3 linked regions of the Homo sapiens genome follow. The protein of the gene in region 1 purifies or fractionates together with the protein of each later gene. This does not show direct contact. Each region holds a gene or a part of one and is shown on either strand. Other genes may lie near its edges.

Region 1 (3,651 bases):
AGACAAGCCTGCTTCCACCTGTAGTCTAAGGAGGTGTGTGACTAAGGAGCCATGCCTTTCCTCTCCTGTCCTCCATCCAGCTCCTGGATCCTGGAGAAGAGACCTATAGTGGTGAACCATGGTCCCTCCTGTGTGTTGGTTGCCAGTGAGAGTTCACCCAACTGCATTGGGGAGCCCAGAGCTCCTCACATCTGGAAGGGACATGCTGGAAAGAGGACATGGGAATGATTGGTTTCAAATAAGGTGGCAATGATGTGGGCACAAGAGTGGTGAGATGGAGAAATTTCCCAGGAAGCTTCACAGGAAATGGAAGCCTGCAGCTGTATCTTTAAGCCCTGGCGGTGACTGCGTTGCTAAAATCCAGCATGAAGCCCCTCTGAACCAAACAGGAGGAGTGGGTAGGGAAAAGAAGGGTGTTAAGACAGTCAGCAGTGCAGGGTCTTTGTCCTGCTCAGGTCCTGGCCTGAAGCGTTTCTTATCTTTCATGAGTTCCTTACATTTAAGCCGGTTCCAAGTAGCTGGATGAGAAGTCATGAAGCAAACAGGCAGAGCAGCTGTGGCACAAATCTTTTCTCTTCTTTTCTTTTCTTTTCCTTTTTATTTATTTATTTTTGAGACAGAGTCTCACTTTTTCACCCAGGCTGGAGGCTAGAGTGCAGTGGCACGATTTCGGCTCACTGCAACCTCCACCTCCTGGGTTCGAGAGATTCTCCTGCCTCAGCCTCCCGAGTAGCTGGGATTACAGGCATGTGCCACTACAACCAGCTAATTTTTGTATTTTTAGTAGAGACGGGGTTTCACCATGTTGGCCAGGCTGGTCTTGAACTCCTGACCTCAGGTGATCCACCCACCTCGGCCTCCCAAAGTGCTGGGATTACAGGTATGAGCCACCACACCCGGCCTGGCACAAATCTTTTATCTGGCTATTTCTTGATAAAACTTCAGCGCCAGAAGTATGGGGCAAGGGGGTAAGAGGTGTTGTAAGCCCCAGGGCATGGGCACATAGGCCTTGCCCTAGCTGCTGCCTTCTTTGGTGTGCTAGTTCTCAAAAGAAGGGAGCCCCAGGTGCTAAAAATGTCCCCCAGTGCAGCTCTGCTGTTGGTCCAGCCAGTGACAGGTGTTGGAACAGCACACTGCTGGAGGCGGTCTTGGAGTGGAGAGGGTTGGGCTGCTGCCTTGTGACTCCCTACCATCTTTAGTTCTCTCTGTCGCCTGTTGGGAGGGGTGAGGAGAGGTGGCAAGGAGCAAGGCACCTTCTGTCCCCCGTGGCAACTGATGGGATTTAATCGCCTTTTGGAACACAATTGTTAAGCTAGGACAGAGGGAGTGCAGGCAGAAGGAGCAAGTATCAATGGTTTTAAACGGCGTCTGTCTCTCTGCGTCTCTCCTGACGTGAGGCAGTGAAACGCGTTATCGAGGAGGCCCGGAAAGTGGCTAAGTGCGTTTGACACACGCCAACTCCCTGCCTCCACACTGGATAATTGCATTGTCAACTGTTCAGCGAGGTGGCAGGTGACACTGCAGGCCGATTGATTGTCCCGCATCGCAGCTCCCCAGACTGTCAGCTCCCCAATCGATGGCGTTTACACAAGACACCGTAACTGCATCTGTAACTAATTCCAGTGTAAAACTCGCCGGAAGCTGCTGCCCCTGCCCTCCGTGTTGGAGAGCACAGGCCCCTGGAGGGCCCCGAGACGTTTCCTTTCTCCCTGGGCTCTGGTTTTGTTGGGAGCAGCAGGTGAGGAAATCGATGCCTCCTTTTTTGTGGTTTCAGGTTCCAGGACGATACTGCCCCCAGTAAACGGGCATCTCCAGTTTCTCAATCGATCATCTGATCAATTGATTAAATTAACACTGATTTTTTTTTTCTCCCTTCTCAATAACCCAGGAAGAAATGAGTTTATGGGAGAAGGGTCGTTTTTATAAAACGTAGACCTGTGTTTCATTTCTGCACTTAACTCTCTCCCTCTTTGTTGCTCAGTTTTCACTGTGAGGAGAAGGATATTTTTTTTTGCACTACCCACCCCGCCAGGAATGGACAACTCTGGCACCACCCTGCTGGGTATCATTGACCATCAGGCTTAGGTTGCCTATGGGTGGGGGCTCAGGCCTTTATGCCACTTTAAGCTGGGGCAGAACTGTAGCAAGAGGCCCTCCCTGGTGACTGAAGGGTACTCTGGGCCATCTTGGAGGTCCTGGGGGCTGAGTTCCTTCCCTAGATAGCAGTAGTAGGAGTGGCAGCTTGCCTGTTATCGCTGGAGCTACATGGAAGAGGAGCCAGAGACTTGGAAAGGAGCTGTCTGTGCCATCTTGCCTCTGAGTACTGGCTTGGGATATTCCAGCAGCTGAGAACATCAAACGACTGTGGAGCCTTCCTCTCCAAGCGGGAGGGGGGGCAAGCTGGCGGGGGCGCTGTCTGCATAAAACGGCTTTATGGCCGTTTCTTTTTATTATGATTCTGCCAGAAGTCAGCAAGTGACATTTCATTAAGAAAATAAAGTTTAATGTGCTGGGAAAGAGGTTGGAGCAGGCTGGGGCAGCACAAGAGTGAAATTGGCAGCAGCAGCCTGTTCTGAACACCTGTGGGGGTAGGGAGAGGTTCCCAACATCTGTCTCAGCTGGAGGATGGGGTCAGGGTCAGAGTGAATGGCTCAGACCAGAGGCAGAGGCCTTTTCTTTGGCAAACAAAGTGTGTCGTGCTGTCCATCCTGCCTCACTGGCCAGCGGAACAGAAAGCTGCTGCCCGGCTGGGAGCTGGGATCTGATAAGGAAAGTTGTATCCTGAGAGATTTCTCTAGGCCACCAGCTAACTAGGACCTAATAGAGCAGTGTCGCCAGTGTTTAGCCAGTACTGCTGGGGTGTGCTGTGTGGCACCAGCCATCAGCCTGGCCAGCTCTGCTGGGTGATGCTGAGATCACAACAGTGAGTCAAACTTGGGACCCTTGCAGCTTCCACTCTGGTGAGGGACAGTGACAATAGGTGGTAATAAATATGATTTTGGAGTTACACAGGATTCTGGGTGGACACCAGGGAAGGGACACCTGTGTATAAGAACGTGGGAAGCCCCATCTGCCACGCAGAGCACCATGAGGATAGGGATCAGATCTTGAAGCTCTCTATTCTCAACATGGAGCCAAACAGAGGATGAGCCCAATAAAGGTTGAAAGAATGGCATTGAGGTGAGAGTTCTTTCCTTTAGCAGGGATTTAGAGAGCAGCTGCTCTGTGTGGGCACTGTGAGTTAATGGTAGGAGGCATGGTTGGGCTGAGTCAGACTTGCCAAAGGAGCAGGCATGTATATTGTAGACCAGGAGGGAGAAGGTTCTAGGCAGAGAGCAGGAGGTGCGGAGGCATGGGGGCATGAGAAAGCACAGGATTTGGGAGACCACAGTAGCTCTGTTTAATGGAGTATGAGTCCTGGGCCAGGCATGGTGGGCAGTAAGACTACAGAGAAAAGGACTTCAGGCTACAGGGCTGCTTTCTGCGTTGAGAAGCTGGGGCTTTTCCTGGCAGCTTTGGGGTACCCTGTTTTCTCTGCTTTGCCATGGAGCCATATTGGGCTCACATGTGGTGCCAGGGTTCTCTGCTTTCCACTTATAAGGCAGGGCTAGGCAGGGCCAGGCCGAGCAGAAGATGTGAGGCCAGCTGCTG
Region 2 (3,651 bases), on another chromosome or scaffold:
CCAACATGGTGAAGCCCTGTGTAAAAATACAAAAATCAGCAGGCGTGCTTGCGTGCACCTGTAATCCCAGCTACTCAGGAGGCTGAGGCAGGAGAATCTCTTGAACCCAAGAGGTGGAGGAGCCAAGATCATGCCACTGCACTCCGACCTGGGCAACAGAGCAAGACTCAAAAAAAAAAAAAAGGCTACAAAGAGACCTTAGAGCCTATTCTCTTTAGCATTAAAACTGTTGGTGCTCATTAGTGCTCCTTCACTCATCCAAATTACATATTCATCCACATGCAAGATAGTTTTAATAACTGTGGTGAGAAAAGACTAATTTTCAAAACTACTTTTAGCAGGCCCTGAACATATGTTTCAAGATGTGACATCCATCCCACTGCCGCCTGCACGCTCCCAGACCATGCCTTCCTCTAGTATCATCTCACAACCCATCATGGCCTCCAGCTCCTTGATGCAGAGCTAGGGAAGGCCCACACTACAGAGCTCCCGAAAGCCCCAGCCCTAAATTTCAGAAATCTCTGCTATGAATACTTCATGTTTACTTTTAAACATATTTCAAAATAAGGCTTCATGCTATTTTTCATGTAAAGTATTAGCATTTGTTCATTCATTTATTTGCAGGGAAAAATATTCCCTTAATATCTGAGTCCAGGCTCTTATCTCCTTCTTTCAGTAAGCTTTTTATTAAGTTAATGACCGAAAGAATATCCACCATTTTCATCCAATTGCTCCAACTTCTTCACAAATTTGGCTAGGGCAGAGAATAATAATAACTCATCCTCAGAACCACTGTGATAAAAGGAACATGCTTTTCAAAAAAGCCCTGGCCCTCTAAAGAAGGGTTAATGAAGCAAATCTTTAAACTACTAAGGGTACCTAACTCTTCCTCCTCCTATTTTAATTTTTATTTTATTTTATGAATTTAAGTAAAAAGGACATAAACCCTTATTCCATGAAGACGTAATGAATCCAAACAAAAACTAAGGAGCTATGACAATTGCAAGAGAATCTAGCAATCCACAAAGCCTTGCTAGAAAAAAAAGGGTCTATTTTATTACCTGTTCAGAAGTGTTCTTCAAGCGGATAAATTTCCCATCAACATCAATTTCTTCGATGCAAACATTTCCAGTGGCTGAGGCGGAATGAGAGATGCTAACACTACTACTCGCCTCTGATTCTTCCACATCAACCCTCTTCCGCTTTCCTCTAGTTGTACGTACACTACGACTTGAGGATGCTCGGGATACTGTCACACGGGAAGAAGGGCTTGGAGACAGCTTCAACCTATATGGGAAAAATAAAACAATTCATTTTTAAAACACATATGCCCTTCTCGCCTTAAAAAAAAAAAAAACAAAAAAACAAGGGCTGGGCACAGAGGCTCATGTCTGTAACCCAACAGCACTTTGGGAGGCCAAGGCAGGTGGATTGCTTGAGGTCAGGAGTTCAAGATCAGCCTGACCAACATGGTGAAACCCCGTCTCTACTAAAAATACAAAAATTAGCCAGGCGTGGTGGTGGGCGCCTGTAATACTAGCTACTCAGGAGGCTGAGGCAGGAGAATGGCTTGAACCCGGGAGGCAGAGGCTGCAGTGAGCTGAGATCACACCACTGCACTCTAGCCTGGGTGACAGAGTGAAAACCTGTCTCAAAATAATAATAATAAGAAGAAGAATATCCCACCCATGCATTTCTAAAGCAAAATATTACTTACAATCTGTTAGCCAAAGCCAAAGTTTACCTTAACTAATGTAAACTTCTTCATAAGGTGCCCATCGTCAATTTTCTTTTTTAAAAAATAACAATCTGAATGTTTTCTCTAGGGATGGAAGTAATATAACCATAATGCAAGAAGTCTGGTAAATGGGTAGAAAGTCATCTGATCTACCACCACCCACCACAGCCACTGTTATAGTTGGTGTACTTTTTTCTCTTTTCGTACCTGTACTTTCTTATGATCACAACGGATATAATATTAAAATTATCTGGCTTTTTATCCTAAATCAGCCACTTTCCTTTTGGAACTTTTTTTTTCTTTTTCTTTTTTTTGTGAGACAGAGTTTCACTCTTGTCACCCAGGCTGGAGTGCAATGGCACAATCTTGGCTCACTGCAAACTCCACCTCCCAGGTTCAAGCAATTCTGTCTCAGCCTCCCAAGTAGCTGGGATTACAGGTGCCTGCCACCATGCCCAGCTAATTTTTGTATTTTCATTAGAGACGGAGTTTCACCATGTTGACCAGGCTGGTCTTGAACTCCTGACCTCATGTGATCCGCCTGCCTTGGCCTCCCAAAGTGCCGGGATTACAGGCATGAGGCAATGCACCTGGCCCTTTTGGAACTCTTTTCTGAGAACAGGTGTCAAAAATATTTATACATTGACCAGATTTAAAATATATATAAAGCCAGCCGGGCGTGGTGGCTCACACCTGTAATCCTAGCACTTTGGGAGGCTGAGGCGGGTGGGTCACTTGCAGTCAGGAGTTTGAGACCAGCCTGGCCAACATGGTGAAACCTCTTCTCTACTAAAAACAAAATTAGCCGGGTGTGGTGACACACGCCTGTAATCCCAGTTACTCAGGAGGCTGAGGTAGGCAAATCGCTTGAAACCAGGAGGTGAAGGTTGCAGTGAGCCGAGAATCACACCACTGCACTCTAGCCTGGGCAACAGGCTGAGACTCTGTCTCAAAAATAAATAAATAAATAAATAAATAAATAAATAAATAAATAAATAATATGTAAAGTCTCTTTCAGCCAGTTTGGCATTTTACAATATATTAAATCACCAAAACACTTAAAATCTCAAAGGAACTAATCCATCCTGATGCAGTTCAGCATTTAAAGTAATAATAATAAATAAACTAAGAGTACTTGAGCAACATTTTCTGCGATGAGGTAGAAATATGATCTATTACTACTTCTATACCTAGGTGTTCAAAGAAATGACCAAGAAAATAAAGTTCTTTTTAAAATGCTATTTATTTTTATTTCAATAAAAAGGGTGAGAGGCAAAAAGTGGACCATAAGGTAGGGTGACCCTTAAGTTCCTTACCTCTCTTCTTCGCCTTCTAAGAGTTTCCTGTAAGCACTGATTTCCATGTCCAGGGCTAACTTTACATCAAGAAGCTGTTCATAGTCATTCAGCTGTTGCTGCATTTGATCCCTTATTTCCGCCATCTCTCTCTCTTTGTCTGTCAGCATGCGACGAGAGTTGTCTTTTTCTTTAGCAAGCAAGTCCTCTAATTCTTGAATCCTTTCCAAACATGCTCTAGACTTAAGATGCAAGGAAACATATTTACTTTCTAGGAACATTCCAACATTAGCACCAGGCAGCTATTTTAAATCATTTCCTAGACTGGAAAACAGTACAACCCTATGGAATCTCTAACTCACTAGAATTCAAGAGATTTTAAGAAATTAAAACCCAAAATTCCTCAAATACAAAACACAGACCTCAGGATAGTTTTGGCTGATAAAAGAATAAAAGACATATTCCACAAATGTAAGTTCTGTAAATATACATATAATTTTTCTGTACTTAGCCAAAAAAATGTTAAGATGTGGTTTTGGTAAAAGTCAAGTCTGGCTCCCTTACAAAGCCTTTACTTCCAAAAGTATAAATTAAATAAAGAACTTAAAAAGATAAGAA
Region 3 (3,651 bases), on another chromosome or scaffold:
GGAGGTTGAGGCAGGAGAATCACTTGAACCCAGGGGTCAGAGGCTCCAGTGAGCCAAGATCACGCCACTGTACTCTAGCCTGAGTGACAGAGTGAGACTCCGTCTCTTTAAAAAACTGGCCTAGTGAGAATACTAAACTAAATTATAAAGCTACAATAAAAAAAACAGTATGGCACTGAACAAGAGCTATATCTGACTCTATAACTAATATAACTGAAAAGATACTACATCACTGTGGAAAGGAAGAATTGGTTAATAAATAATGACAAGATGGCTAAATAGCAATTGCAGGGGAAATAGTTTATTAAACCATTTTTTAAAAACATTAAATATAATGTACTTATTTATCAAACTTCTTGGAGAATAAGTTCTTCCAAGTATAGAATAGGAAAAACAAAACAAAAGTTGGACAGATTTTGACTCCTAAGATAACACATTTCTACATGTCCAAACAATGAACAATATTAAAAGACAAATAATTCATCATGGAAATGTTTGTAGCAAATATGACAACAGGTTAATATATTTGTAAGTCTCAGGTAGATCAATAAGAAAAACACTAAGGCTCTAACATAACTAGGACAAGGCCAAACAAGTCAATGAAAATAAATATCATTAGTAAACAGACAGGAAAATATTCTGCTTCACGAATGTTTAAATGGCACATGCCATGAAATTAGCAAAAAATGTAAAATGCAATTAGCTTATACTTATAACAGAATAGTAAAAAGGGACATCTTTATTTACTGCTGCTCTAAATAGGTCCAACTCTTGTAAGAAGCAGCCTAAAGGAAAAATTACTCATGAAACCTTAAAAATATCCACACACTTGAACTCAGTAACACTATTTTTATGGAAGCATCCTAAAAAAAAAGAATCCTTAAAAAAAAAATCAAAGTTACCTACACCAAGATGTTTACAGCAATTATTTGTAATAAAAAATTTGGAAATAAACATTCAAACAAAAAAATCTGAACGATGGTTGCTGTTGAATCTGCTTAACCAGTTATCCTAAAACCAGTCTTCATGGTTCCCATTCCAGTCCATCCTCCATACTGCTCCCAGATTGTGTCTAAACAGCAAATATATTAAAGCTTAAAATCCTGCAATGGTTCCCCCCACCTTAAAAAAAATGAACATCTTGGCAAACTACAGTAAGGTCCAAACTAGGTTGGTCCCTGTCTAGAGCCTCACCTCTTGCCACTCATACCCAATGCATTAGCCATAAAGAACACATGCAGAACTATTCGGAAGTATTTATAGCTCTCCAGCATTCATTAAATAAAATGCCAAAAAGGTCTTAATCCATACTCACACAAGGATGCTGGCTTCATGGCACTTAAAGCATAGGAACAATAAACGCCTACCAGTGGGTTAGGTCTGGTACTAGAAGAGCTTCTTAGAGTCATAGAGGACAGTTCAACTCAGGTCAGGGAAAGTTCTAGGGATAACAGTAATCTTTGAGTTGAGCCTTAAAAGATGGGCAAGTATTGCTAGGGGCGAGGGCATTCATAATTATACTGAGTCATGAATAAAACATTAAGTTCTACTAAGTATGGTCTATTTGAAAAGAGGAGGACATATTACGTCTTTAAGACTCTCACCAAAAAAGGCTCAAATAGGCCAGGCATGGTGGCTCACACCTGTAATCCCAGCACTTTGGAAGGCTGAGGCAGGAGGATCTCCTGAGCACAGAAGTTCAAGACCAGCCTGGGCAACCTGGAGAAACCCCATCTGTACTGGAAAAAAAAAAAAAAGGTAAAAAAATCAGCCAGTCACAGTGGCATGGACCTGTAGTCCCAGCCAGTTGGGAAGCCAAGGTGGGAAAATCACCTGAGCCGGGAGGTCAAGGCTGCAGTAAGCCGGGATTGCTCACTGCACGCTGTTGCCACTGCACTCCAGTGTGGGCAACAGAATGAGATTCTGCCTCAAAAAAAAAAAAGGCTAAAATAAAAATCTTGTATGCCTAAGCATGACCCTTCATTTATCTTTAAAACTGAGTTATGTTAAATGAGATGTTAGTATGTTGTGATAGTAATAGCTCAACCAACAAGAAAAAAGTAAAAGTGATGACTAAAATACACAGACTTTATTACGAATACCAAACTACAAAAAGGACCTTGGCATGTTCTACTGCCTGCCTGAAGAGGGTCAGACTAGAAGACAGAATTTAAAAGAAAAGGAAGGAGCTCAACTACACTGGCTTCCTCCTCAGAAACCAAGAAAATAAAACAAATTGGGGACATTCAAATCACTAACACCTCTAGTATATAAAGTCATTATGGGCCGGGTGCCGTGGCTCATGCCTGTAATCCCAGCACACTGGAAGGCTAAGGCGGGCGGATCACCTGAGGTCCAGAGTTTGAGACCAGCCTGGCCAACGTGGCAAAACCCGTCTCTACTAAAAATACAAAAAAAACCAGCCAGGCGTGGTGGTGGGCGCCTGTAATCCCACCTACTCGGGAGGCTGAGGCAGGAGAATCACTTGAACCCGGGAGGTGGAGGTTGCAGTGGGCCGAGATCAAGCCCTTCAACTCCAGTCAAGAGTGAAACTCCAACTCAAAAAATAAATAAATAAAGTCATTATGATGTATAGGCATACTTAAAAACCTGTGAAATAGAATTAAGCTACAATTTTTAAAGCCTTGAATCGATAAAATATGTAGTGAAACAAGATTAAGACGCTAGCATATCTAAAGGGAAATTTTTAAAGTTAAACTTCCTTACATTATAGACAAGGTTAACCTCCTTATTGCCAAGGGCTTTGAAATTAATAACATGAGAAGCAGCATACAAAAACATTAAATGTATAAAAAGGTCTGAAACAAATGTTCTGGAGGAGTAATCTTATTCTGCTTCTCCATACCTAAGAATTTAAAATATTAGAAATTACACTAAACTGCTTTTTCCAGCCTTTGGTTTTCAGAAACAATAATGGTATAAAAAATTATCCCAAAGTTTTTACTGTAAAGAATATTTTTCTATCCAAACCATTGAAAGAAAAGCCTGTATCAGATATAAGTATAATGATATAGACATTATACATTTTGTAATCAATGTTATAGAAACAGTAGTTGAAGTTGATAGTGTTACCATACAGCCCATTTCAATGATCATATGTTAATGTGTCATAAAGAACAGAAGTAGCTTGATGGATGAAATCAGATTCTAACCCCCAACTGCCTGAGGAATCTAAAATTTGGGATCAAATTATTAAATTAGCCCCACCTTCTTAGCATTGACAAATACCAAACAGTTCACTGATTGTGGTTTTAAGAATAATATGTGGAAAGGTTTAATATCAATTGTGGGCAGAGATCTCATGGCTTAAATATTTCCTCTTCTTCAGAGAGAGTGTGTATGAGTGTGTGAGTGTGTGTGTGTGAGTGTGTGCATCACCATGTAAGAAATGTTTATACCTTTCAGCAAAGGGGCAATTCCACAATAAAGTTATTATCAAGTAACTAAAGTTTATACAGCATCTTGAAATCAAAGGTACTCTATAAATTTAAAATACTAATATGGTATTAACTTAAAGCAAAGAACAATAATTTTAAAACACCTTATAGCCCAAGTGTATTGTAAACCAAATATAAATTCACTGTGGGATCTGTCTTTTTTTAAGTGATTTTTTTTCCTCTATTAGGCAAC

The links.
Region 2: the proteins of RNF220 (region 1) and LMNB1 purify together in Homo sapiens (affinity purification with western blotting, with the first as the bait; one study listed by BioGRID). This does not show direct contact.
Region 3: the proteins of RNF220 (region 1) and SMURF2 purify together in Homo sapiens (affinity purification with western blotting; one study listed by BioGRID). This does not show direct contact.

What each region holds. Positions count from the first base shown.
Region 1 is NC_000001.11:44,639,188-44,642,838, forward strand, and holds part of RNF220 (E3 ubiquitin-protein ligase RNF220), read left to right. Parts: intron 1-3,651. UniProt on the Homo sapiens protein: E3 ubiquitin-protein ligase that promotes the ubiquitination and proteasomal degradation of SIN3B. Independently of its E3 ligase activity, acts as a CTNNB1 stabilizer through USP7-mediated deubiquitination of CTNNB1 promoting Wnt signaling.
Region 2 is NC_000005.10:126,818,546-126,822,196, reverse strand, and holds part of LMNB1 (lamin-B1), read right to left. Parts: exon of another isoform or gene 3,276-3,651; coding exon 3,055-3,275; intron 1,288-3,054; coding exon 1,062-1,287; intron 1-1,061. UniProt on the Homo sapiens protein: Lamins are intermediate filament proteins that assemble into a filamentous meshwork, and which constitute the major components of the nuclear lamina, a fibrous layer on the nucleoplasmic side of the inner nuclear membrane.
Region 3 is NC_000017.11:64,655,789-64,659,439, forward strand, and holds part of SMURF2 (E3 ubiquitin-protein ligase SMURF2), read right to left. Parts: intron 1-3,651. UniProt on the Homo sapiens protein: E3 ubiquitin-protein ligase which accepts ubiquitin from an E2 ubiquitin-conjugating enzyme in the form of a thioester and then directly transfers the ubiquitin to targeted substrates.